Linked DNA regions of Homo sapiens: regions 1 and 2 are each linked to region 3. The links come from fine-mapping of genetic effects on gene expression. A gene starts in region 3. Each other region holds a variant in brackets. All regions are shown on one strand. Distances are from middle to middle.

What was found.
Region 1: its variant is fine-mapped to the expression of F8 in whole blood (TOPMed, PIP 0.95).
Region 2: its variant is fine-mapped to the expression of F8 in whole blood (TOPMed, PIP 0.92).

The regions. Positions count from the first base shown.
Region 1 is chrX:154,905,778-154,914,082 of GRCh38, reverse strand. F8 (coagulation factor VIII) reads left to right here. Exons shown (of 26, transcript NM_000132.4): 15 at 7,510-7,663. It also overlaps the pseudogene EEF1A1P31. Among named protein-coding and RNA genes, the nearest start is that of MIR1184-1, 22 kb to the right of the region's middle. The variant T/A (reference allele first, on the strand shown) is at 3,891.
Region 2 is chrX:154,978,263-154,986,567 of GRCh38, reverse strand. F8 (coagulation factor VIII) reads left to right here. Exons shown (of 26, transcript NM_000132.4): 6 at 1,765-1,881. Among named protein-coding and RNA genes, the nearest start is that of F8, 40 kb to the left of the region's middle. RefSeq lists enhancers at 5,459-5,508, 5,609-5,658. The variant T/C (reference allele first, on the strand shown) is at 5,112.
Region 3 is chrX:155,017,828-155,026,132 of GRCh38, reverse strand. F8 (coagulation factor VIII) reads left to right here and starts at 3,410. Exons shown (of 26, transcript NM_000132.4): 1 at 3,410-3,723. The coding sequence starts at 3,581.

The DNA.
Region 1 (8,305 bases), 110 kb after region 3:
TTTGGGAATGTCCACCTAGATTTCAGAGGATGTATGGAAATGCCTGGATGTCCAGGCGGAGGTGTGCTGCAGAGGCAGAGCCCTCGTGGAGAACCTCTGCTAGGGCAGTGAGGAAAAGAAATGTGGGGTGGGAGCCCCCACACAGTCACCACTGGGGCACTGCCTAGTGGAGCTGTGAGAAGAGGGCCACTGTCCTCCAGACCCCAGAATGGTAGATCCACTGAGAGCTTGCACCGTGGGCCTGGAAAAGCCACAGGCACTCAATGCCAGCCCATGAAAGCAGCCAGGAGCAGGGCTGTACCCTGCAAAGCTATGGGGGTGGAGCTTCCCAAGGCTGTGGGAGCCTGCCTTTTGTATCAGGGTGACCTAAATGTGAGACACGGAGTCAAAGGAGAACATTTTGGAACTTTCAGGTTTAATGACTGCCCTATTGGATTTCAGACTTGCATGGGGCCTGTAGCCCCTTTGTTTTGGCCAATTTCTCCCATTTGGAATGAGTGTATTTACCCAATGCCTGTACCCCTATTGTATCTAGGAAGGAACTAACTTGCTTTTGATTTTACAGGCTCATAAACAGAAGGGATTTTCCTTGTCTCAGATGAGACTTTGGACTTGGACTTTTGGGTTAAGGCTGGAATGAGCTAACACTTTGGGGGACTGTTGGAAAGGCATGATTCTGTTTTTAAATGTGAGGACATGAGATTTGGGAGGGGCCATGGGTGGAAACATATGGTTTGGCTCTGTGTCCCCACCCAAATCTCATCTTGAATTGTAGTATATTGTTTGTAAAAATTCCTGCCTATCCAGAGATTTTTTAAAAAAAAACAATACTTTCTTCAATTTTCTCTTACAATTTAATTTTTTACATTTAACTTTTTAATACTTCCTGTAGACTAAAAGTTATTTTGGTGCATTGTGTGAACCAAAGATCAAAGTAGTTTTATTTTTTTCTGAAAACATCTATTCATTTTTTCAATTAATTGATTGTTTATATTAAGGATCTAGGAGGATCTAAAATTATGGAATTGTGGGCAAGGGCAATTTTTGCCTTACATTTCATGTAAGGCAAAATAATCCCCATGTGTCATGGGAGGGACCCAGTAGGAAGTGATTGGATCATGGGGGCAGGTTCCCCCATGCTGTTCTCATGACAGTGAGTAAGTTTTCATGAGATCTGATGGTTTTATAAGCATCTGGCATTTCCCCTTCTGTCACCTCTCCCTCCTGCCACCTTGTGAAAAAGGTGCCTTGCTTCCCCTTCACCTTCCACCATGATTGTAAGTTTCCTGAGGCCTCTCCAGCCATGTGGAACTGTAAGTCAATTAAACCTCTTTCCTTTATAAATTATGCAGTCTCAGGCAGTTCTTTATACCAGCAGGAAAACAGACTAATACAGACCCTAAATATCCAAAGCAGTCCTGAGCAAAGAGAACAAAGCTGGAGGCATGATGCTACTTTATTTCAAACTATACTACAAAGCTGTAGTAACCAAAACAGCATGGTACTGGCATAAAGACAGAAACATATGCCAGTGGAACACAACAGAGAACCCAGAAATGAATCCACACATTTAGAGCCAACTCATTTTTGACAAAGTGCCAAGAATATGCATTGGTGAAAGAATAGTCTCTTCAATAAATGATGTTGGGAAAACTGGATATCCACATGCAGAAGAATTAAACTAAACCCCTATCTCTCACTGTATACAAAAATTAAATCAAAATGGATTAGAGACTTAAATATACAACCTGAAAGTATGAAGCTACTGGAAGAAAACATTGGGGAAATGCTCCAGGACATTGGTCTGGGAAATATTTTATGGCCTGGGAAATATCAAAAGCACAGACAACTAAAGCAAAAGTAGACAAACGGGATTATATCAAGCTATAAAGCTTCCGCACAACAAAGGAATCAATTAACAAAGTGAAGGGACAACCTACAGGATGGGATGAAATATTTGCAAACTATACAACTGAGAGGGTATTAATAACCAGAATATATAAGGAACTCAAACAAGTCAATGGCAAAAAAGCAAAGGATCCTATTAAAAATGAACAAAGATCTGAATAAACATTTCTCAAAAGAAAACATACAAATGGCCAACAGGTATATGAAAAACTGCTCAACATCACTAATTACCAGATAAATGCAAACCAAAAGCACAATGGATATTTCACTCCAGTTAAATGACTTTTATCAAAAAGACAAAAAATAATGAATGCTGATGAGGATGTGGCAAAAGGGGAATGCTTGTACACTATTGGTGGGAGTGTGAATTAGTACAGATACTATGGAAAAGAGTATGTATGTTCCTCAAGAAACTAAAAATAGAACGACCATGTGATCCAGCAATCCCACTGCTGGATATATATCCAAAGACAGGAAATCAGTGTATCAAAGAGATAGTTGCACACCAACATTTATTACAGCACCATTCACAATAGCTAGGATATAAAATCAACCTAAGTATACATCAACAGATGAATGGATAAAGACTGTGTGGTATATATACACAATAGACTATTACTCAGCCATTAAAAAGAATGAAATCCTGTCATTTGTGGCAACATCGATGAGCCTGGATGTCACTGTGTTAAGTGAAATAAGCCAGGCATAGAAAGACAAATATCACGTTTTCACTTACATGTGAGAGCTTAAAAAGTGGATCTCACGGAGATAGAGAGTAGAATGGTGCTTAAAGGAGTTTGGGAATGGTATGGGGGGGTGGGATGGAATGAAGAGAGGTTGATTAATAGGTGTAAAATGAAGGGGTGGCCTGCCCCTCGTCACCCACAGTGACGAGAAACACTGTGGGTGTTTCTCGTCAGGTGGGACGAGAGACTGAGAAAAGAAATAAGACACAGAGACAAAGCACAGGAAAGAAAAGTGGGCCCAGGGGACCGGCGCTCAGCATACGGAGGACCCGCGCCGGCACTGGTCTCTCAGTTCCCTCAGTATTTATTGATCATTATCTCTACCATCTCGGAGAGGGGGATGTGGCAGAACAATAGGGTAATAGTGGAGAGAGGGTCAGCAGGAAAACATGTGAACAAAGGTCTCTGTGTCATAAATAAGTTTAAGGAAATGTGCTGTGCCCTGATGTGCACGTATACAAACATCTTGGTGCATTAAAGAGCAGTATTGCCACTAGCCTGTCTCACCTCCAGCCTTAAGGCGGTTTTCTCTTTTCTCAGTAAATAGAACATACAATCGGGTTTTACACCGAGACACTCCATTGCCCAGGGACGAGCAGGAGACAGATGCCTTCCTCTTATCTCAACTGCAAAGAGGACTTCCTCTTTCACTAATCCTCCTCAGCACAGACCCTTTACGGGTGTCGGGCTGGGGGACGGTCAGGTCTTTCCCTTCCCACGAGGCCATATCTCAGGCTATCACATGGGGAGAAACCTTGGACAATACCTGGCTTTCCAGGGCAGAGGTCCCTGCGGCCTTCCGCAGTGTATTGTGTCCCTGGGTACTTGAGATTAGAGAATGGTGATGACTTTTTTTATTATTATTATTATACTTTAAGTTCTAGGGTACATGTGCACAACGTGCAGGTTTGTTACACGTGTATACATGCACCATGTTGGTGTGCTGCACCCACTAACTCGTCATTTACATTAGGTATATCTCCCAATGCTATCCCTCCCCCCACCCCATGACAGGCCCCGGTGTGTGATGTTCCCCCTCCTGTGTCCAAGTGTTCTCATTGTTCAATTCCCACCTATGACTAAGAACATGCGGTGTTTGGTTTTTTGTCCTTGTGATAGTTTGCTGAGAATGATGGTTTCCAGATTCATCCATGTCCCTGCAAAGGACATGAACTCATCCTTTTTTATGGCTGCATAGTATTCCATGGACAAGCATACTGCCTTCAAGCACTTTTT[T/A]AACAAAGCACATCCTGCATAGCCCTAAATCCATTAAACCTTGACTCAACACCGCACATGTCTCTGCGAGCACAGGGTTGGGGCTAGGGTTACAGATTAACAGCATCTCAAGGCAGAAGAATTTTTCTTAGTACAGACCAAAATGGAGTCTCTTATGTCTACTTCTTTCTACATAGACACAGTAACAGTCTGATCTCTCTTTCTTTTCCCCACAGTAAAATTACACTTAAATAGAAGGGATAAGTTGTAGTGTTCGATATTACAGTAGGGTGACTATAGTTAACAATGATTTATTGTATGTTTCAAAATAGCTAGAAGAGAAGACTGGGAATGTTCCCAACACAAATAAATGACAAATGGTTGAAGTGATTGATATTCCAATTACCATCATTTGATTATTACACATTGTATTCATGTATCAAAATATCACATGTATCCCCAAAACATGTACAATTATCGTGTATCAATTTAAAAATACATCATGATAGGCACCTCTCAGGTTGACTGTACTGTCCTGATTATTGCTAGTGGTGTTAACAAATTTGAAGCTAGTATCTTTAAGAACGGGCAGACCCATGAGCATGCCCTTCTGGTTTACACACTGGAAGTGAAACAACTAATTGTTGGTGTTAAAAAATGGATTTCACTGAACTATGCCATCGCCAACAGAGCTATGTGGAAATCAATAAGGAAGTCAGCCCTACATTAAGAATACTGGCTACAACCGCAACACAGTAGTATTTATGCCAATTTCTGGTTGGAATGCTGACAACTTGCTAACATGCCTTGGTTAAAGGGTGGAGAGTCACCTGCAGAGATGGCAATACCAGTGTAGCACACCGCTTGAAGCTCTGGATTATATCATACCACCAGCTCATCCAACTGACAAGGCTTGTGCCTACCTCTCCAGGAAGTCTACAAAATTGGTAGTATTGGTAATGTCTTTGTGGGCCTAGTGGTGACTGGTGCCCTCAAACCCAGCATGATTGGTCAGCTTTGCTCCAGTTAACATTACAACTGAAATAAAGTCTTTTGAATTGCACCATGAAGCTTTAAATGAAGCTCTTCTTGGGGACAATGTGGGCTTCAGTGTCAAGAATGTGTCTGTCAAAGATGTTTATCATGGCAATATGGCTTGTGACAGCGAAAATGACTCGCCAACGGAAGCAGCTGGCTTCCTGAACCATCCAGCCCAAATCAGTGCTGGCTCTCCACCTCTGTTGGATTGTCACACAGCTCACATTGCTTGCAGGTTTGCTGAGCTGAAGGTGGTTGATTTCCTTCTGGTTAGAAGCTGGAAGATGACCCCCATTGTGATTTTTATTGCTATGGTTTCTTTCTAATTTAGTCTTGAGGTCTCTCCCTTGAGAATGGTCATAAGCCAAGAGAGCCACTTTCTAGGAGAGTCCTGACCAGGGGGAAAGTTAAGTTTGAGTGTGTCAGCTTGGTGAGACACAATGAGGAAGTAAAAACAAAATAAATAGTGGAATAGAATACTAACAAGTACCTAGAAATAAGTCTAGCTAAAAATTTGCAAAATGTCTATGGAAAAAAAAACTATGGAAATTTACTGAGAAACTTTAAAGAGTACCTAAATAACTTTCAAGATATACCACGTACATGAATTGGAAAACATGATATTTGAAAATGTCGGTTATTCCCAAACTGATTTATAGATTCAGTGCAACCTGAATGAAAATCCCAAGACGTTCCTTTTGTAGAGCTCAACAAGCTGATTCTAAAATTAATATGAAAATGTAAAGGTTTATGAATAGCCAAGTCCTTCTTGAAGAGGAAGAATAAGATGAGAGTAATTGCTGTCTAATATATTGAGACTTATTTTAAAGCTATAATAATTAAAACAATGTAGCAGTTGGTATAGGGATAATCAAACAGGTAAATGAAATAGAATAGAAAATCCAAAACTAGTCTAACACATATAGAAACTTGATTTATGACAAAGGTGTCACAGAAGTAGAGTTTCAATAAAATGCTGGAAAATGTTGGTATCTATATAGATAAAACATTACATTGGATTCCTAACTCACACCATACACAAAAATCCATTCACATTGCATTACAAGTCTAAAAGTGAAATATAAAATCATAAACATTTTAGAAAGAAAATGTAAAAGAATATATCAATAACCACAGGGTAGGGAAAGAAAGAGAATTGACATCAAGATACAAAAAGCCCTAGCCAATAAGGTTTTTTTTTATAAATTCCACACATTAAAATTACAAACTTATGCTCATCAAAAGATAACATAAAAACAATGAAAAGATTAGCCACGGAATGGTAAATGTTTGCAATACATAACACAAAGGACACACAAAGGAAACTTATATAATAGATTTTAACAGGCTTCTCTGTGTCCTTCTTCTCCAGCAATCAAGGAATATATAAAAAAGCATATCAAGGATATATAGGGTACTCTTTTGATTCAACAAGAAAAAAGCAGATTATCCAAGAGAAAACTTGGCAGAAAAAAGCTTGGATAGGTGCTCCACAAAAGAGGACATCCAAATGACTGCTACTCATAAGAAAAGATGCTCAACCTCATAGAACATCCAAAAATGTAAAAACACAGTCAATACCAGATATTTGTAATAATTTGGAGCAAATGGAACTCTCATACATTGCTAATGAAAATGGAAAATGGTCCAGCTGCTTTGGAAAACAGTGTGGCAATACCTACCAAAGCCAAACACATGCATACCTAGTAATTCCGCCCAACAGAAATGCACATATATGTTCACCAAAAGATATGCACCAGAAGGTTATAGCAGGTCCATATGAAAGTGCCAAAGATTATAACAACTCAAATGTCCGTGATTAGGGTATATTCATATAATACTATACAACAATGGGAATGAACAAACTATAGCTACATATGATAATATAGATGAATCTCACAACCAGAATGCTAAGTGAAAGAAGAAACAAAAGAATATATGTAGTATGTTTTATTTACACACTTCAAAACAGGCAAAACTAAACTATATTTTTAAAGGATGTATACGTAACTGGTAAAATTATAAAGAAAAGCAAAGAAATGATTATCATAAAGATCAGAATGGTGGTTACCTTCAGTGGGAAGGGAGAAAGTATGATTGAAAAGGGACATCCAGTGAGTCTTGTGGGTTGTTGGCAATGTTACTGATCTGGGTGATGATTGCATTTATGTACCAAAGGCATTTGTGTTTTATGCACTTTATTGTATATGTTTTAGTTCACAATTTTTTTAGTTCACAATTTTAATAGGGCTTTAAAAAGTAAAAAGAAAAGAGATCCAAGGGCTTGACCATGGGACTCTCTTATATTTGGAGTATGTTTATAAACTTTACATTCATTCAACATTCGACAAATATTTTTTGAGCACCTACTTTGTGCCAAGCACCGTTACAGGTGCTGGGAATACAACAGGGAACAAAACAGACAAAACCCCAGCTTTCATGGAACTTACATGCTAATAAAGCTTGGCAAGAGTATTTCAAGGAAGATGAAGTGGTTAACTATGCAAAATGCTTCTCAGGCACCTAGGAAAATGAGGATGTGAGGCATTTCTACCCACTTGGTACATAAAATTATTGCTTTTCCTCTGCTTTTTTTCTCCAGGGCTCAGAGTGGCAGTGTCCCTCAGTTCAAGAAAGTTGTTTTCCAGGAATTTACTGATGGCTCCTTTACTCAGCCCTTATACCGTGGAGAACTAAATGAACATTTGGGACTCCTGGGGCCATATATAAGAGCAGAAGTTGAAGATAATATCATGGTGAGTTAAGGACAGTGGAATTACAAGAAAATTAATTTTATATATTTATTTTCTTGCTGACTATAATGTATTCCCACTTTTGGAAATTTTTAAAGTATAGAAAAATAATTCCATAATTATCTTTGTGTACGTTCTATTTTTCCTATGTATTTTTCTCCTTATGTATTCAAATTATACCATGCAGAATTCTGATTCTTGTTTTTTTACTAAATATCACATCATAAACATTTCTTACGTCATTAAAAACACTTCCTATGTATGTTTTTAAAATACTGCATAATAGTCTATTATATGAATTTATGGAACCATAGTTTATGTAACCATTTATTTTGAACAAGCTTTTAGACAGTTTCTTTTTTCACTATATAAATAACGCTGTAATCACAACAGTTTTTCTAAGATAAAATTCCAGAAGTGCAATGTATTTGAGCATCTTAAGAGTTTTTCTTATTAATTATTTGGTAATGTCCCTTGCACATTTGTCTTTCATGGAGGAAGTGCTTTTCTTATTGATTATGTTACCTTATATATTAGATAGTAAACCACTGAACATTTTAATGAGAGGTACTTTTTCAAGTTTTTGTTTTCTCTTAATTTTATAAATGATGGTTTTTGAAATAAAACAGGTTTTAATTTTTAGGT
Region 2 (8,305 bases), 40 kb after region 3:
TGTAATCCCAGCACTTTAGGAGGCTGAGGTGGGCAGATTGCTTGAGCCCAGGAGTTTGAGACCAGCCTGGGCAACAGGGCGAAACCACATCTCTACAAAAGAATTAAAAAATCAGCCGGTCATGGTGGCGGGTACCTGTACTCCAGCTACTTGGGAGGCTGAGGTGGGAGGATCACTTGAGCCCAGGAGGTGAAGGTTGCAGTGAGCTGTGATTGCGCCACTGCACTCCAGCCTGGGTGATAAAGCCAGACCCTATCTCAAACAACAAAACAAATAAAATAATTCAATTTCAAGGTAAAGTGCAAAATGCATTATCTATTCTCTGGTGACATTTCCAGCCTTGTTGTGTTCCATTTCCTGCCTTATCTTCCATGTCACCCAAATATGTAATGCTTTTTCTTGCATGAGACCTCTGCATATGCAGTTTCCTCTGCCTGGAAAAATCTGTCTCCCTCTTTACACTAAGTAAGCTTCTCCTTTTTCTTTAAGTCTGACTTACTTCAGTTATCCCCTTCCTTAATTCCTTCTCCCAGGATGACCTCTAGTCTGGATTAGATGCCTGCTTATATTTCCACAGCATCTTGAGCTTATTCCTTATCATACTATATCAGTATTTTCTACTTTATTTAATATTTATCTTCTTTGATCTCATATCTTTTTCCCTTCAAGCAAAGTGAAATTTCTTCTCCTCTCTGCTCCCTGTAACACCCTACTCTCATCTTTATTATATCACTCTTTACTCTTTATTATAATTATCAGCTTCTCTGACGATTCCAGCTAGAGTGTAAGCATCTTGAAAGCAGAGGCTGTATCTTCCTCTCTATCATCAGTGTCTACAATTAGTAGTGCTCAATAAATATGTGTTTGAATGAATGAACAAATGAATGGCTGCCTCATAAAGTTTTAGCACTAGCTACCAGTCCTTCACACAAAGGGGTAACTCCAGGGAGTCACTGTTCAATAGTATTTCCAGTGCTTCAGCCCTTATCAATTTCAGAGACAGTGTTAGGGAGCTTTCAGGTTCCTGGGGTTTCATAAATATAAGCTGGGATGAAGCAATTATAACGGAGACAGGGACTGACAGACAGCCTTTTTCCTAGGACAATTTTCTTTTTTCTTTTCTTTTTTTTTTGAGATCGAGTCTCACTCTGTTGCCCAGGTTGGAGTGCAGTGGCACAATCTTGGCTCACTGCAACGTCCACCTCCCAGGTTCAAGTGATTCTCCTGCCTCAGCCTCCTGAGTAGCTGAGATTACAGGCACATGCCACCATGCCCGCCTAATTTGTGTATTTTTAGTGGGGATAGGGTTTCACCATGTTGGCCAGGCTACTCTCAAACGCCTGACCTGAAGTGATCCACCTGCCTCAGCCTCCCAGAGTGCTACGATTACAGGTGTGAGCCACCGCGCCCGGCCCCTAGGATGATTTTCATAAGCTTTCTTTTAAATAATTCAGCTAATAAAAAGAATTGAATCCTGATGCCTCAAGCTAACCAATATTCTGTCTTCTATTATTATCCATTCCCACTTATTGTCATGGACAAATGGAGGGAGAGAAAATCAGTTTGAGCAAGAGATGTCTGCCTTTACATAATTATCTTCTCCCTCCCTCACACTGACTTTGAGAGGATAAGTGCTGTGTGCCTACTTTGCTGACAAAAATGCTTAAGGTGTGAGCACACTGGGAGCAGGGAAGGAGAAAGGGGAGGCGGTCATTCATGAGACACATGCTTAGCTGACTCTATCTTTGCCTTCTCTCTCATCAGGGAAAAGTTGGCACTCAGAAACAAAGAACTCCTTGATGCAGGATAGGGATGCTGCATCTGCTCGGGCCTGGCCTAAAATGCACACAGTCAATGGTTATGTAAACAGGTCTCTGCCAGGTATGTACACACCTGCTCAACAATCCTCAGGGTCTTCCAAATTCAGCACCAGAGTTCTGTACTTCAGTTCACAAACAGCTCGGCATCTCAGAGGATATAGCCCACTGAATACTTGAAGATCTCTGGCCTCTGGGGATCTTAATGTATAGTAGGCAATTCCTCTTTTGGTCACCTGAAAATGAAGGCTTACCCATGTACATACAGCCCACAGTCAGATTTTTCTTTCCTTTTCTTAAATGTGAGTGGGCAACCAAGGATGAACAGACATTTAAAAAGAACCTAAAATATGGAAGGGATATGCAAAGATGAACAAAGAAAATAATAATCCCAGAATAAAAAAAGCTATGGCTCAGAACAGAACTCATCGGAAGCTCTTACTTCTATTTTCATAAAGATTCAAGAAGATACTGCATCAATAAAGTAACAATAAGATGCCTTCCAGTTTTAAAATAGGGGCATAGAGGCAGGCTGGCTTTACTCCCTCTCACAGAAAACCAAAACCAAACATACAGCACCAATATCTACACCAACAACAACCCAGAGCTCACATGTGAGGATGAGACAGTTCCCGGAGCCACAGAGAAGTGAAAAAACTTTGAGAATCAGACTTCCACATCCATGACTCTCCTTCCTCCTATTCTGCCCAGCACCAAGTGTATGGAAAATCTCCCCTCAACTCATGGTTTCTACACTGGAAAAAGTGACATTGAGGTGTTCAACCAGCTTCTCCACCTTCTTGGGTTCCCTGGGGGGAGATTTGTCCTTGCCTTAACCCACAGAAAACATCATGACTGTCTGAAGGCAGAAATATCCCAGAGTACAGGCAGAGACAAATGAGGGAGGAAGGACTACCATCCCCAGCCCTGGAAATTCTGCTCTATAATTTGGCCAAAGACATGCAAATTCAGAATGGCCGTGCAGCAGCACCATGCTGTAGCAGGTTTATCCTACAGGTCACCTTGGCATGAATCACTAGCTGGCCTTCCAACACTGCTATGATAATCCCTTTGGGACCTCACCCACTTGGGACAGGCAGGGCTCTGACCACTTACTGGAACACCTGTAATCCCAGCACTTGAGCTCAGCACAATAACAATAGGAGATGGCTACTACCGTTAATTTTATGCAGTTACGATTTAATACTGGATCTTTACGTTTGTTTACATTTGTCCCAACTGGCACCTTCATCACCTCCACCCTCCCCACCCCAGACTATGGTAACCACGATTCTACTCTCTATTTTCACAAGATCCACTCTTTTAGCTCCCACATGTGAGTGAGAACATGTGGTATTGCCCTGCAGTGTCACCTATGTTGATGCAAATGAAAATATTCTTTTTTATGGCCAAATAGTATTCCATTATGTATATATACCACTGAACTGTACACTTAAAAATGGTAATGATGGCAAATTACATATGTATATTTTACATCAATAAAAAGAAACTTAAAAATAAGGTAACAATAGGATTCTATGAAAAACAATCATAACAAAACGTGCTCATAAAAATTATAAACACAATGGTCAAAATAGAAACTCAATAGAAAGTACTAAGAATAGATAAAATCTTTCATAAGGTCAAACAAAATGTGGTTGAGAATATAGTTGACCCTTGAACAATGTGGGGGTTGGGGTACTAACCCCCTGCACAGTCAAAAATCCATGTATAACTTTTGACTCCCTCCAAATTCAAGTACTAATGACCTATTGTTGATCAGAAGCCTTATCAATAACATAAACAACAAATATTTTGTGTATGTATTATATGCTGTATATTTTCAATAAAGTAAGCTAGAGAAAGGAAAATGTTATTTATACTTTTCTCTGCTTCTTGGGAGTACTTCCAGCATCACTAGTGGCACTTTATACGGGTCCCAAGTATCCTTCAAAGTTTATGGAGAGATGAAATGCTTATGCAGAGATGATTAGCATCATGCAGAGTTTTCAGTGGATGCCTGCAGCACTCGAGCTCAGCACAATAACAATAGGAGATGGCTACTACCGTTAATTTTATGCAGTTGCGATTTAATACTGGATCTTTACGTTTGTTTACATTTGTCCCAACTGGGAATGGTGCCATGTATGGTTGTAAGTATGTAAGTTTTTATAAATTTCAACTTTTTATAATAGATTTTTGTATATTTTATGGTAATAAATGATAAAATAGTCTAGTATCAACATGTATATGTATATATAAGTGTGTATACATATATATATATATTTTTTTTTTTTTTTTTTTTGAGACGGAGTCTTGCTGTCGCCCAGGCTGGAGTGCAGTGGCGCAATCTCAGCTCACTGCAGGCTCTGCCCCCCGGGGTTCACGCCATTCTCCTGCCTCAGCCTCCCGAGTAGCTGGGACTACAGGCGCCCGCCACCTCGACTGGCTAATTTTTTGTATTTTTAGTAGAGACGGGGTTTCATTGTGTTAGCCAGGATGGTCTCGATCTCCTGACCTCGTGATCCACCCGCCTTGGCCTCCCAAAGTATATATATATATTTTTTGAGACGGAGTCTTGTTCTGTCACCCAGGCTGGAGTGCAGTGGCACAATCTGAGCTCACTGCAACTTCCCCCTCTTGGGTTCAAGCGATTCTCCTGCCCCAGCCTCCCAAGTAGCTGGGATTACAGGCATGTGCCACCACGCCCACCTAATTTTTGTAGTTTTAGTAGAGATGGGGTTTCACCATGTTTGCCAGGCCGGTCTTGAACTCCTGACCTCGTGATCTGCCCGCCTTGGCCTCCCAAAGTGCTGGGATTATAAGTGTGAGCCACTGCATCCGGCCATCTCCATATATTTTTTGCATTCATAACATACCTTTTTCTTAATTTTTTTGATATTTTTACCCTATGTGGTCCATCTGACAGTTTTTTCAAATTGTCATAAATTTCCAAAAAAATCTCACTATATTTATTGAAAAAAAACTGCATATAAGTGGACTCATGCAGTTCAAACCTGTATTGTTCAAGAGTCAACTGTGTGTTTTAAAGCAGATTTTAACATCAAGAAATGATAGAAAAATGATAAGAATTAAAAGAGATAAATATTCATATTAGAATTGCCCATCAGGAGCTTCTGAGTAGCTGAACGCATGGAGGTTCCTGGAGAGTGGCTGGCCCCATGCCCCTTCCCACATACCCTTCCTTATATATGCATCTCTTCCATCTGGCGTTTATAAGAAAAGGTGCTGACTGCTGAATTATAAGGACACTGTGGTCTACTAGATAAAGGT[T/C]GAGGAGAGGGGTTTGGGCTTCTATTGTCTTCTTTCCGGGCCTTCATCTCCTGCTTGTGATTAAGTAGTGCATGCTGAGTGGAGCAAAGTGGTGGAATAGGACTCTTCAGCAATAATCTCCTCACAGAAACATCAAGGTAACAACTCGATGCGTGAAATTACCTTCAGAAGAGTTAAGAAAACCTGAACCCATGAGCAAGACTGTGAAGCCCTTTTGGACTGCAAAGACGAGTAAAACCATAGTTGCACATAAAGGGGATTGGTTCTTTATGACTGAGACCCCACCCGCAAGCCACTGCAGTACCACAGGCGGAAAGTCACCATGGACCCACGGTTTTTACACCGGAAAACTCTCCCGTATGGCCTGAGTGCCCTCTGTGGATCTCCACTAATTAGTAGCAGAGCCAGCATGAGACTTGCGTCTAACCTGGGCTCAGGGCGCCCTCTCGTGCTAAAAGGAAATACAACAGCCAGTCCTTTCACTTTCTTTTTGATATGGTCTCTGTTGCCTAGGTTGGAGTGCAGTGGTGCGATCATAGATTACTGCAGTCTTGAACTCCTGGCTGGGCTCACACGGTCTTCCCACCTCAGCCTCCAGAGTGGGACTACAGGTGTGTGCCACTATGCCTGGCTAAATTTTCGGGTTTTGTGTGTGGGGTGGGGAAGATTGGGGTATTGCTATGTTGCTCAGGCTGGGTCTCGAACTCCTGACCTAAAGCAATCCTCCAGCCTCAGCCTCCTAAAGTGCTAGGTTACAAGTATGAGCCACCACACTCAGCCCCACTCAATTTCTAAACGAGCTCACTGAAATAGAGCAGTCACAAACAAACCCAGACTGTGAACATGAGAATAAATACCTAATTCTTCAATGTGTAGACAGGGATGCACATCTGCAAAGAATAAGAATAGCCTAAGAAAGACAGCCTCAACAAATGAACAAAAAATCGTGCCAGTGACTAATCCTAAAGACATGCAGGTGAATGATCTGGTAGACAAAGAATTCAAAATAGCTATTTTAAGAAAACTCAACAAACTTTTATAAAACACAGAGAAACAATTCAGAAGTTTATCAAAGAAATTTAACAGAGAAATTGAAGGAATAAAAAAAGTCAGAAATCCTGGAACTGAAAAGTATAATAAAAAATGACACATGCAATACAAGACATCAGCAACAGAATTGATCAGGCAGAAGAAAGGATCAGCAAGCTCAAAGACAGGTTATCCAAAAATACAATCAGGAGGGGCTTCAGGATGGTTGACTAGATGCATCTAGTGTTCATCCCTTCCATGGAGAGGAACCAAAGTAGCAAGTAGATAATTATACTTTGAATAGGTCATCTAAGAGAGAACACTGGAATTCAACAGAGCAGTGACAGGAAGCATTGAAAGCAAGGGAGGAGAGAGAAATAAGGCCTGTTTGCCTGGGATTGGCTGGGAGTCTGGAACAGCTTCCTAATGTGGGGAAAAGGTAAGAGACCCTTAGTGTTCCTCATTTTCACCAAGGACTCTTGCAATCCTAGCCACAGGAGAGCGCCTTATTCCTTGACAGCACAGAGACTAGCATAGGGAGTTGCCTAAAGACCGTGTGAAGGCATTGCAACAGAGAGCTCACGCTGGATTCTGCAATTCTCCCAAGCAGCTGCAGCACAGCACCATTTTGAGAACACAGCCCACACATCCTGCCCTGCTATGATGGCCGTGACTTAGGCAGGAGCCCTGAGCAGTGATCCTGCCCCACCCAGCAGAGGAGTGCCCATGCATTTTCACATATTCCAAGAACAAATTCCACTACCTACAACCACTGCTGCTGCAGGCTGCTGTGGGGCCAAAACACTAGTGAACCTTGTGCTCCCAAGCTACCTGCCTACAGCTACTCCCTGAGAAAGCAACCCCACCTTCACCAAGAGCAGGGCTATAGCACAGCTACTGCTGCACCCCAACCTGAGCATTTTGCTAGTGACCTCGGTATCACCCCACCCCTGCATAGCACAACCAGCACCTCACACACCACCAAGGAGCCTGAGGGCAGGTTCACGTAGCCCAGCTCTACCTGCCCCCAGTACCCAAGCATATCATCCAGGGGCCTAGGGATCACTTAGCCCTGTCCACCACTGGTGGCACCTGAGCACCTCCTGGGGTCTGAGGTCAGGCCCACTCAACCTGCCACTACTGCCACAGTTAGCACTCACTGCATGCACCACTTGAGGGTCTGGAGACTGGCCATGCGATCCATAGCAGCCACAACCAACGCCAGCACAGACCACTTGAGATTCAGGTTGTTTCATTGCTATGATTGCCATCAACCATGCCACTTTGCTGCCCAGGAACTTGAGAACCCACCCACCCATGTGATCCATCAATACCACTTCTGGCACCCAAGTAAACCACTTGGAGGCCCACAAATCAACCTGCCTGGACCTAAAACCAGTGCAATCATATGCCACCATGGTACACCAAAGACAAGCACACTCAGCCCACTGCTGCCACCATTGGGGCCTGAAGACAGGCCTACCTGGCATCCCACTTCTCAGAAAAACTTCACCACAGCCTCCACTAATAACCACACCCTAAGCCACTGAGAAAATCACAAATATCACTGATGCTGTTTAGAATCTTATACAGAGGCTACTACATTCACCGAGAATCAAAACCGAAGTGCTCTACCCAAGCAACACCACAGATACATCTTCAGGAAAAAGTTCTTTCCTACAAAAGCAAATTTTAAAAATTGGAAAAAGTGATTATTACACCAGATGTGCAGATATCAATGTAAGGACACAGGAAACATGAAAAATCAAGGAACTATGACACTCCAAAGGAGCACAATAATTCTGTAGCAAGAGATCCAAATAAAAAAAATTTAAGATGGGTACAAAAAAATAGAAAGAATGAATAAGACCTGCTATTTGATAGCACAACATGGTGACTATAGTTAATAATAACTTAATTGTACATTCTAAAATAAAGAGTGTAATTGGATTGTTAATAACTCAAAGGATAAGTGCTTGAGGGTATACATACCTCATTCTCCATGATGTGTTTGTTTCACATCACATGCCTGTATCAAAACATCTCATGTGTTCCATAAATATATACACCTACTATGTATCCACAAAATAAAAAAATCATAGTTTACAAGCAAAACAGTATATGTGACCATTGGTTTTTAAGTAAACTGGCCAACATCTCTTTAA
Region 3 (8,305 bases):
TGGCTCACGCCTGTAATTTCAGCAGTTTCGGAGGCCGAGGCGGGCGGATCACGCGGTCAGGAGATCGAGGCCATCCTGGCTAACATGGTGAAACCCCGTCTCTACTAAAAATACAAAAAATTAGCCGGGCATGGTGGCGGCCGCCTGTAGTCCCAGCTACTCGGGAGGCTGAGGCAGGAGAATGGCGTGAACCCGGGAGGCGGAGCTTGCAGTGAGCCGAGATCGCGACACTGCACTCCAGCCTGGGCGACAGAGTGAGACTGCGTCTCCAAAAAAAAAAGAAAAAATACGTTATCTATGAAGATTTCCAATTTGATTTCTATTTATCACAAATGGCCACAGTACTCCTTTGTACTTTACCACATACCATATTGTATTCAGTAATTATTTGTGAATATGTAATTGATAATATTGTAGGTTTTAGAGAATCCTTGAAAACATGAAAATTTGGTAATGGGGTCTATTTTGATTATTTATTTATTTATTTATTTATTTTATTTTTGAGACAGAGTCTCGCTCTTGTTGCCCAGGCTGGAGTGCAGTGGCGCGATCTCGGCTCACTGCAAGCTCCACCTCCCGGGTTCAAGCGATTCTCCTGCCTCAGCCTCCCAAGTAGCTGGGACTACAGGCACGTGCCACCATGCCCGGCTAATTTTTTGTATTTTTAGTAGAGGAGGAGTTTCATCTTGTTAGCTAGGATGGTCTAGATCTCCTGACCTCGTGATCTGCCCGCCTCAGCCTCCCAAAGTGCTGGGATTACAGGTGTGAGCCACCGTGCCCGGCCATATTTTGATTTAAAATTTAGCAATAATAGATAAAATTTTCAATCAACTAAGCCCTTGGGCCAGGGAATGCTATTCCTTAAAAAGTGCTTCTATCAATATAGCCTCTGACTCATTACTTTGTTAATTTTTAAATTGTATTTCATTCCTGATTAACATTCCCACCCAGATTATTAATTATACAATCTGTTAACTGTAGAACCTCAAACATGTTGGATTGTACTGTATTTGTCTGGAAGACACATTTTTAAAACATTGTAATCGCTATAAGAGAAGCACTGGGAAAGAAAGGAGCTTCTATGCCTGCAGTGCCTGAGGAGCCCTTTAACAGTGTGCCCCGCCCCTAAGCTACTCATGCAGTCATCCCCATCCCAGTTAGTCAACTTTATTCCAAAAAACTTGGTGTTCCAAATTTTTCCTTCTCAAAGCCCACAGATCCAAAATTCATCAGCAGTTCCCACAAACGTTACCCTCACAATGAATCCAGCCATTTTTCACCCTCTCCAGTGGTACCATCATAGCCCAAGCCGCCACCATTTCTCACCCCCGGTTAACAGGCCACCCTCCTTCTACCCTTATCCTGCTAGAGTTTGTTTTATCTACAGTGATCAGAAAGATCAGCCTAAAAGATAATTCTGATCACCACCCTCCTCTACTCACAACCCGGCCGTGTCTCCCCATTGCCCTCAGTGTAGAAGTCAATGTCCCTTTGCTGAAATGCAACCTTAGTGAAACTTTCCATGACTAACCTCCTTTAAAATTGCAACCTGGTCCACCCTTACTCCCCCTTACCCCACTTCTCTTTTTTGCACAGCACTTATTTTACCTTCTAACATACTGTATAATGTACTCATGTATTGTAATTATTGCTTATCATCCCTCTTTCAGTTGCTTATATTTTTCATCAATGTGTACCCAGTGCCTAGGACAATATCTGTCTAGGACAAATGGGTAGTTATGTGGCTGTAGGCAAGCCATTTAACCTCTCTGTACCTCAGTTACTTTATCTGTATCCACTTTGCGGTGTTGTCATGAGGATTAAATCAGATAGCCTATGTGTAGCACCTGGCAGTGAATTTATCACCCTGTACTGTAACTGTCTACTTTTCTGTCTCCTCCATTGGACTGTCATTCCCAGGGGGTTGGGAACTGGGATTTCTTCATTTCTGAGGCATAGAAGTATAGCATAGTGGTTAGGAGCATGACTTCTGGAGCCAGAGTACATGGGTTTGAATGCTACCACTCACAAGCTGTGTGGCCATGGAGAAGTTGCCTAACCTCTCCGTGCTTCAGTTTCATCACCCATAAAATGAAGGTAAGAATAGTACCTGTATTTAAAAGCACCTAGAACAGTTCCTGGCATATAGTGTCAGCTGTCATCTCTGCATCCTTGTACCTGTCAGAGAGGAGTGTTTATCAAAGGGGCTTCTTGCTGCCTGTTTCCAAACCAGTCGACAATATACCAATTGCTCCCTAACACATTCTTGTTTGTGCAGAACTGAGCTCAATGATAACATTTTTATAGCAACCCTGATCAAGTTTCTTCTCATAATCTCTTACACTTTGAGGCCCCTGCAGGGGCCCTCACTCTCCCTAATAAACATTAACCTGAGTAGGGTGTTTGAGCTCACCATGGCTACATTCTGATGTAAAGAGATATATCCTATACCTGGGCCAAATGTAAACAGCCTGGAAAAGTGTTAGGTTAAAAACAAAACAAAATAAATAAATGAATAAATGCCAGGTGGTTATGAGTGCTATTGAGAAAAATGAAGCCAAGAGGGATATCAGTGATGCAGGTGGGGGTAAAGAGCTTACAACATAAATGTGGTGTTCCATATTTAAACCTCATTCAACAGGGAAGATTGGAGCTGAAATGTGAAGGAGTTGTGGGAGTGGAACTACGTGGAAATCTGGGGGAAAGGTGTTTTGGGTAAAAGAAATAGCAAGTGTTGAGGTCCAGGGGCATGAGTGTGCTTGATATTTTAGGGAAGAGTAAGGAGACCAGTATAACCAGAGTGAGATGAGACTACAGAGGTCAGGAGAAAGGGCATGCAGACCATGTGGGATGCTCTAGGACCTAGGCCATGGTAAAGATGTAGGGTTTTACCCTGATGGAGGTCAGAAGCCATTGGAGGATTCTGAGAAGAGGAGTGACAGGACTCGCTTTATAGTTTTAAATTATAACTATAAATTATAGTTTTTAAAACAATAGTTGCCTAACCTCATGTTATATGTAAAACTACAGTTTTAAAAACTATAAATTCCTCATACTGGCAGCAGTGTGAGGGGCAAGGGCAAAAGCAGAGAGACTAACAGGTTGCTGGTTACTCTTGCTAGTGCAAGTGAATTCTAGAATCTTCGACAACATCCAGAACTTCTCTTGCTGCTGCCACTCAGGAAGAGGGTTGGAGTAGGCTAGGAATAGGAGCACAAATTAAAGCTCCTGTTCACTTTGACTTCTCCATCCCTCTCCTCCTTTCCTTAAAGGTTCTGATTAAAGCAGACTTATGCCCCTACTGCTCTCAGAAGTGAATGGGTTAAGTTTAGCAGCCTCCCTTTTGCTACTTCAGTTCTTCCTGTGGCTGCTTCCCACTGATAAAAAGGAAGCAATCCTATCGGTTACTGCTTAGTGCTGAGCACATCCAGTGGGTAAAGTTCCTTAAAATGCTCTGCAAAGAAATTGGGACTTTTCATTAAATCAGAAATTTTACTTTTTTCCCCTCCTGGGAGCTAAAGATATTTTAGAGAAGAATTAACCTTTTGCTTCTCCAGTTGAACATTTGTAGCAATAAGTCATGCAAATAGAGCTCTCCACCTGCTTCTTTCTGTGCCTTTTGCGATTCTGCTTTAGTGCCACCAGAAGATACTACCTGGGTGCAGTGGAACTGTCATGGGACTATATGCAAAGTGATCTCGGTGAGCTGCCTGTGGACGCAAGGTAAAGGCATGTCCTGTAGGGTCTGATCGGGGCCAGGATTGTGGGGATGTAAGTCTGCTTGGAGGAAGGTGCAGACATCGGGTTAGGATGGTTGTGATGCTACCTGGGCCCCAAAGAAACATTTCTGGGTAAGGTGTGCACACATCTGTGTTATTAGCAGAAATGCTAACTGCCAATTCTTTTCATAGGTCTGACCTATTTGTTGATATTTTGTTCTGTTTTGTCCATTGCTTCTCTTCGTCATATGCTGCTCCTCCAGAATCTAGAGACTGGAGTAGAGGGAGGGTGAAGGGACAAAGACAAAACTTCCCTCTGCCTGCCCAAGCTTCCATAGAGAGAATCAAGGCAATGAAATCCAATCAATATCACACACAAGTTTCATGTCTGGTTCTCTTGTGTGTACATGCAATGTGTGTTTTTATAATATCTTTTCCTACTTTGGGTGTAAGGATAATATGAGCCTTGAGTTCAGAAGCTTTTCGTGTTTTGGGGGTTCTGGTGCATTTAGGCAGAGTATTAAATAACTTTATCAATATTGTCTATGGTCATCAGTTGATTCAGATTTTTCTACCTCTTCTTCAGTAAATATTGGTATATTTTGGTCTATACTTTCATAGAAAGCAATCTACTGTCCCTAGATTTGATAATGTATTGGTATCAAGTTATGTAAGAGTCTCCTGTGATTTTGTTAAACTGTTCTGTGTCTGTAGTTATATTTTCTTTTTCATTCCTTATGTTGTATATGTTCTCTTCCTCTCTTTTAAAAATAATATTTCCAGGAGTTTTCTTGATTTTATTGGTCTTGTCAAGAATTTTCTTTTGGTTTGATTTATCAATCTCTTTTTTCTTTCTGTTGCATCAGTTTCTGCTTCTACTTTCATTGATTTATTCCTTCCTTCTAATTTCCTTTGGTTCATTTTGTTGTTAGATTTTTGCTTCTTGAGTTGAATGCTGAAATCATTTATTTTATTTTTTTGTCTTCTTTAAATGTGTATTATAAAGATTTAAATATAATACATAGATTGTGGCTGTGTAAACATTAAATGTGGTCATGTTGTACATACTTTATATTCTTTTTGGTTCTTTCTGTTTGGCTCCCCACCCTCTTTCCACATCAGTCCCCTTCTCCCCCACCTCAGCTAGGTAACCCCAGTATGATAATATATATTCACATACACATACACACACACAAAGGTTTTCTTGGACATTATTTGTTTTATAAAATTGGGACATTATACACACATTTCTCACTCATTAACACGTACTAGAACTCTAAGTCAATTGGTATAGCTTTAATTCATTATTTTTATTGGCTATATAAGATTCTATGGTATGGCTGTATCACAATTTAGTCAATATGTTCACTTTATTCCAGTTTTTGGCTACTATATCCTATATCATTACATACTGGTGCTTTTACTTCTGTTGAACAAACTTGCAAGAGGAATATTAATGGAACGAAGGGAATGTTTCCTTCTAAGTTTTAATTTCCAAAGAGGTCAGAACTTTTCAAACATTTCTACCATCGAAGTATGAAAATGGCCTTCTCTCTGCATTCACATAGCGATAAGTTTTATCCTGTTTTTAAAATTTGCCAATTTTACAGGTGTAGAGTGATATTGCATCATTACTTTCATTGTGTTATTTTTATTTCTAATAAGTTGAGCATCTTTTTAAATGCTTGTTGGCTATTGGATTTATTTGGGGGATTTAATTAGTCATATGATTTGCCCATTATTCTTTGGACTCTTTCATTTAAAAAAATTATGAGAACCCTTTTATTATTACAAATATTAACTCTTTGTCATGTATATTGCAGTTTTCCCCAAGATCTATTGTTTGTCTGTTGACTTTCTTATAACTTTTACCAAAACAGTTTTTAATTTTTATAATCAGAGATATCTTTTCTTTCATATCTTCAGAGTCGGCAAGGTTGGTTAAAAATGTTTCCCACACCTCAAGATTGTACGTGTAATCTCCCAGATTTTCTTGCAAGATGTTTACTGTTTCGCTTTTTATATGCATTGCTTCAATTATCTGCTAATTACTTTTGTCATATGGCATGAGAGAGGGATTTGTCTAGTTTTATTTCCATCCAGATCAATAGCCTATTGTGATGGCACCTTTTGCCACTGATTTGAATCAACACATTCATCATATAAAGTTCTCATATATATTAGCATATATTTCTGGATTCATTAGGCTGTTTCACTAATCTACTATTATCTTGCTATGCCAGTACCATAGTGATTTGATTACAGTGAGCCTATGATATCTTCTGATATCTGGTGGGTGAAAGCAATCCTCACTATTCTTTTTGTACCTTTCTTAGCTATTCTTAGACACTTTATTCTTCCACATAAAACTGTTAAGATATTTTTCAAATTAAAAAGATCCAAGCCCTGTTGTGATTCTAACTGCAATTTCATTAAACTCAGACCTTAATTTTATTAATGTAATAAATTTAAATATTTTTCTTATTACATTTATCTCTGTGTATTTTATAAGTGTGATGCTATTGTTAATAAGATAGTTTTCTCCTATTTCCATTTATGAGTGCTTAGTACCAAATAGAGATAAGCTATTGGTTTGTGTATTTTCAGCTTTTTCTTTTGAGCCTGGGTCTCATTTTGTCACCCAGGCTGGAGTGCAGTGGGGTGATCTCACCTTACTGCAGCCTCAACCTCCTGGATTCAAGCAATTCTCCTGTATATCAGCCCCCCAAGTAGCTGGGACTACAGGAGCAGGCCACCATGCCCGGAAAATTTTTGTATATTTTTTAGAGATGGGTTTTTGCCATGTTACCCAGGCTGGTTTTCAACTCCTGAGCTCAAGCATTCCCCCCACCTCAGCCTCCCAAAGAGCTAGGATTACAGGTTTGAGCCACCGCACCCAGCCATTGTATATTCATCTTAAATCTAGCTACCTTACCAAATTTGCCTATTAATTCTAGTAATTTTACCCTAAAGTCTCTGTGAGTATTGAATCATATCATAAGTTAAATGAGACAGATTTTAGCTCATTTCCAATATTTATAGCCAGTTATTTCATTTTCTTATCTTATTGAATTTATTAGAAAACAAGAGCAAATGTTAAATAATAACAATGAAAGTGAACATTCCTTCTACTCTATGATTTTACTTGAAATAATTTTTGTATTTTGCTATTTAGAGTAACATTTGCTGTTTTGGTTTTTGTAAATGGTGTTTATTCTATTCTCATTTGCCACAAAATGTTTATCATAAATAAGTTTTCAGCAGCTGGTATCATCTGAATTGTCTTCTTTGATATGCTGATGAACAAATTATGTTCATAGATGTCCTGACACTAAATACCCTTACATTCTTGGAGTAAAATCTACTATTCATGGAATTTGATCATTAGTGGGTTCTATGTACTATTTCTTTAGACTATTCTTAGTAGATTTTCACTACTCAACCTACTAATAATAATAAACAAAGTTTTGTTGGCTTTATCAAATGAATTGATGAGTACTCCATCTTTTTCTATTGCTTAGAATAGCTTAAGTAACATTTGAATTATCCATTGTCTAAAAGTTAGGTGAGACTCACTTATGAATCCATTTGGTCCTAGTGGCATTTGCAATATCTTTAATCACCCCTCCAGGCTCTTCTATGATAATCAGTCAATTCAAGTTTCAACTTCCAATAATTATATACCTTTCTAGGAAGTAACTTTATTTATTTTTTCAATTTTGTTGCCACAGTGTTGCATGTAGCACTCACTCATGATTCTTTTACTCCACATTATCTGTAGTTATGTGCCCTTTCTTATTCCTAAATTCCTCTATCTTTGCTATTTATCTTTTTTTCCTTGAATAAGCTTGCCAATGACTTGTCTATTTTGTTGCTGGTGGTGCTCTTTTCAAAGAATGGGCTTTTGGATTTTTTTTTTTTCTAGTTGGTATAAAGCATTTTTATTTTCACTGAGCAGAAAAAGAAGCTATTGATTCATTAACTGTGCTGCTTTATTGGCATGTAGCTATGCACTGTTCACACATTAATATATAAAACTCGTCAGTCTGTTTTATTTTGTCTGATGGGAAAACATGAACAGTGAGATTTCTTATGCAAAAAGTGAACAGTTCAACTATGCTAGCTCCATATACCTTTATTAACATTCCAGAGACTTATCCTCTCAACATGATCTGATTTCTGTAGGATAACTTTTCAGGAAAAGTATTTTCTGATCAGTGAAGCTTGGAGATATAAATAAGCAATCGGCCAGGTATGGTGGTTCATGCCTGTAATCCCAGCACTTTGGGAGGCCGAGGCAGGCAGATCACCTGAGGTCAGGAGTTTGACACCAGCCTAGCCAACATGGCAAAACTCCGTGTCTACCAAAAAAAAAAAAAAAATTAGCTGGGCATGGTGGTGCTCACCTGTAATCCCAGCTACTGAGGAGGCTGAGGCAGGAGAATTGCTTGAACCTAGGAGGCGGAGGTGGCAGTGAGCTAAGATTGTGCTCAGCCTAGGTGACAGAGTGAGACTCCATTTCAAAAAATAAAAAAATAAAAAAAAGCAGTATCTCTCATATTCATTAACTGGACCCTGACTTTCTT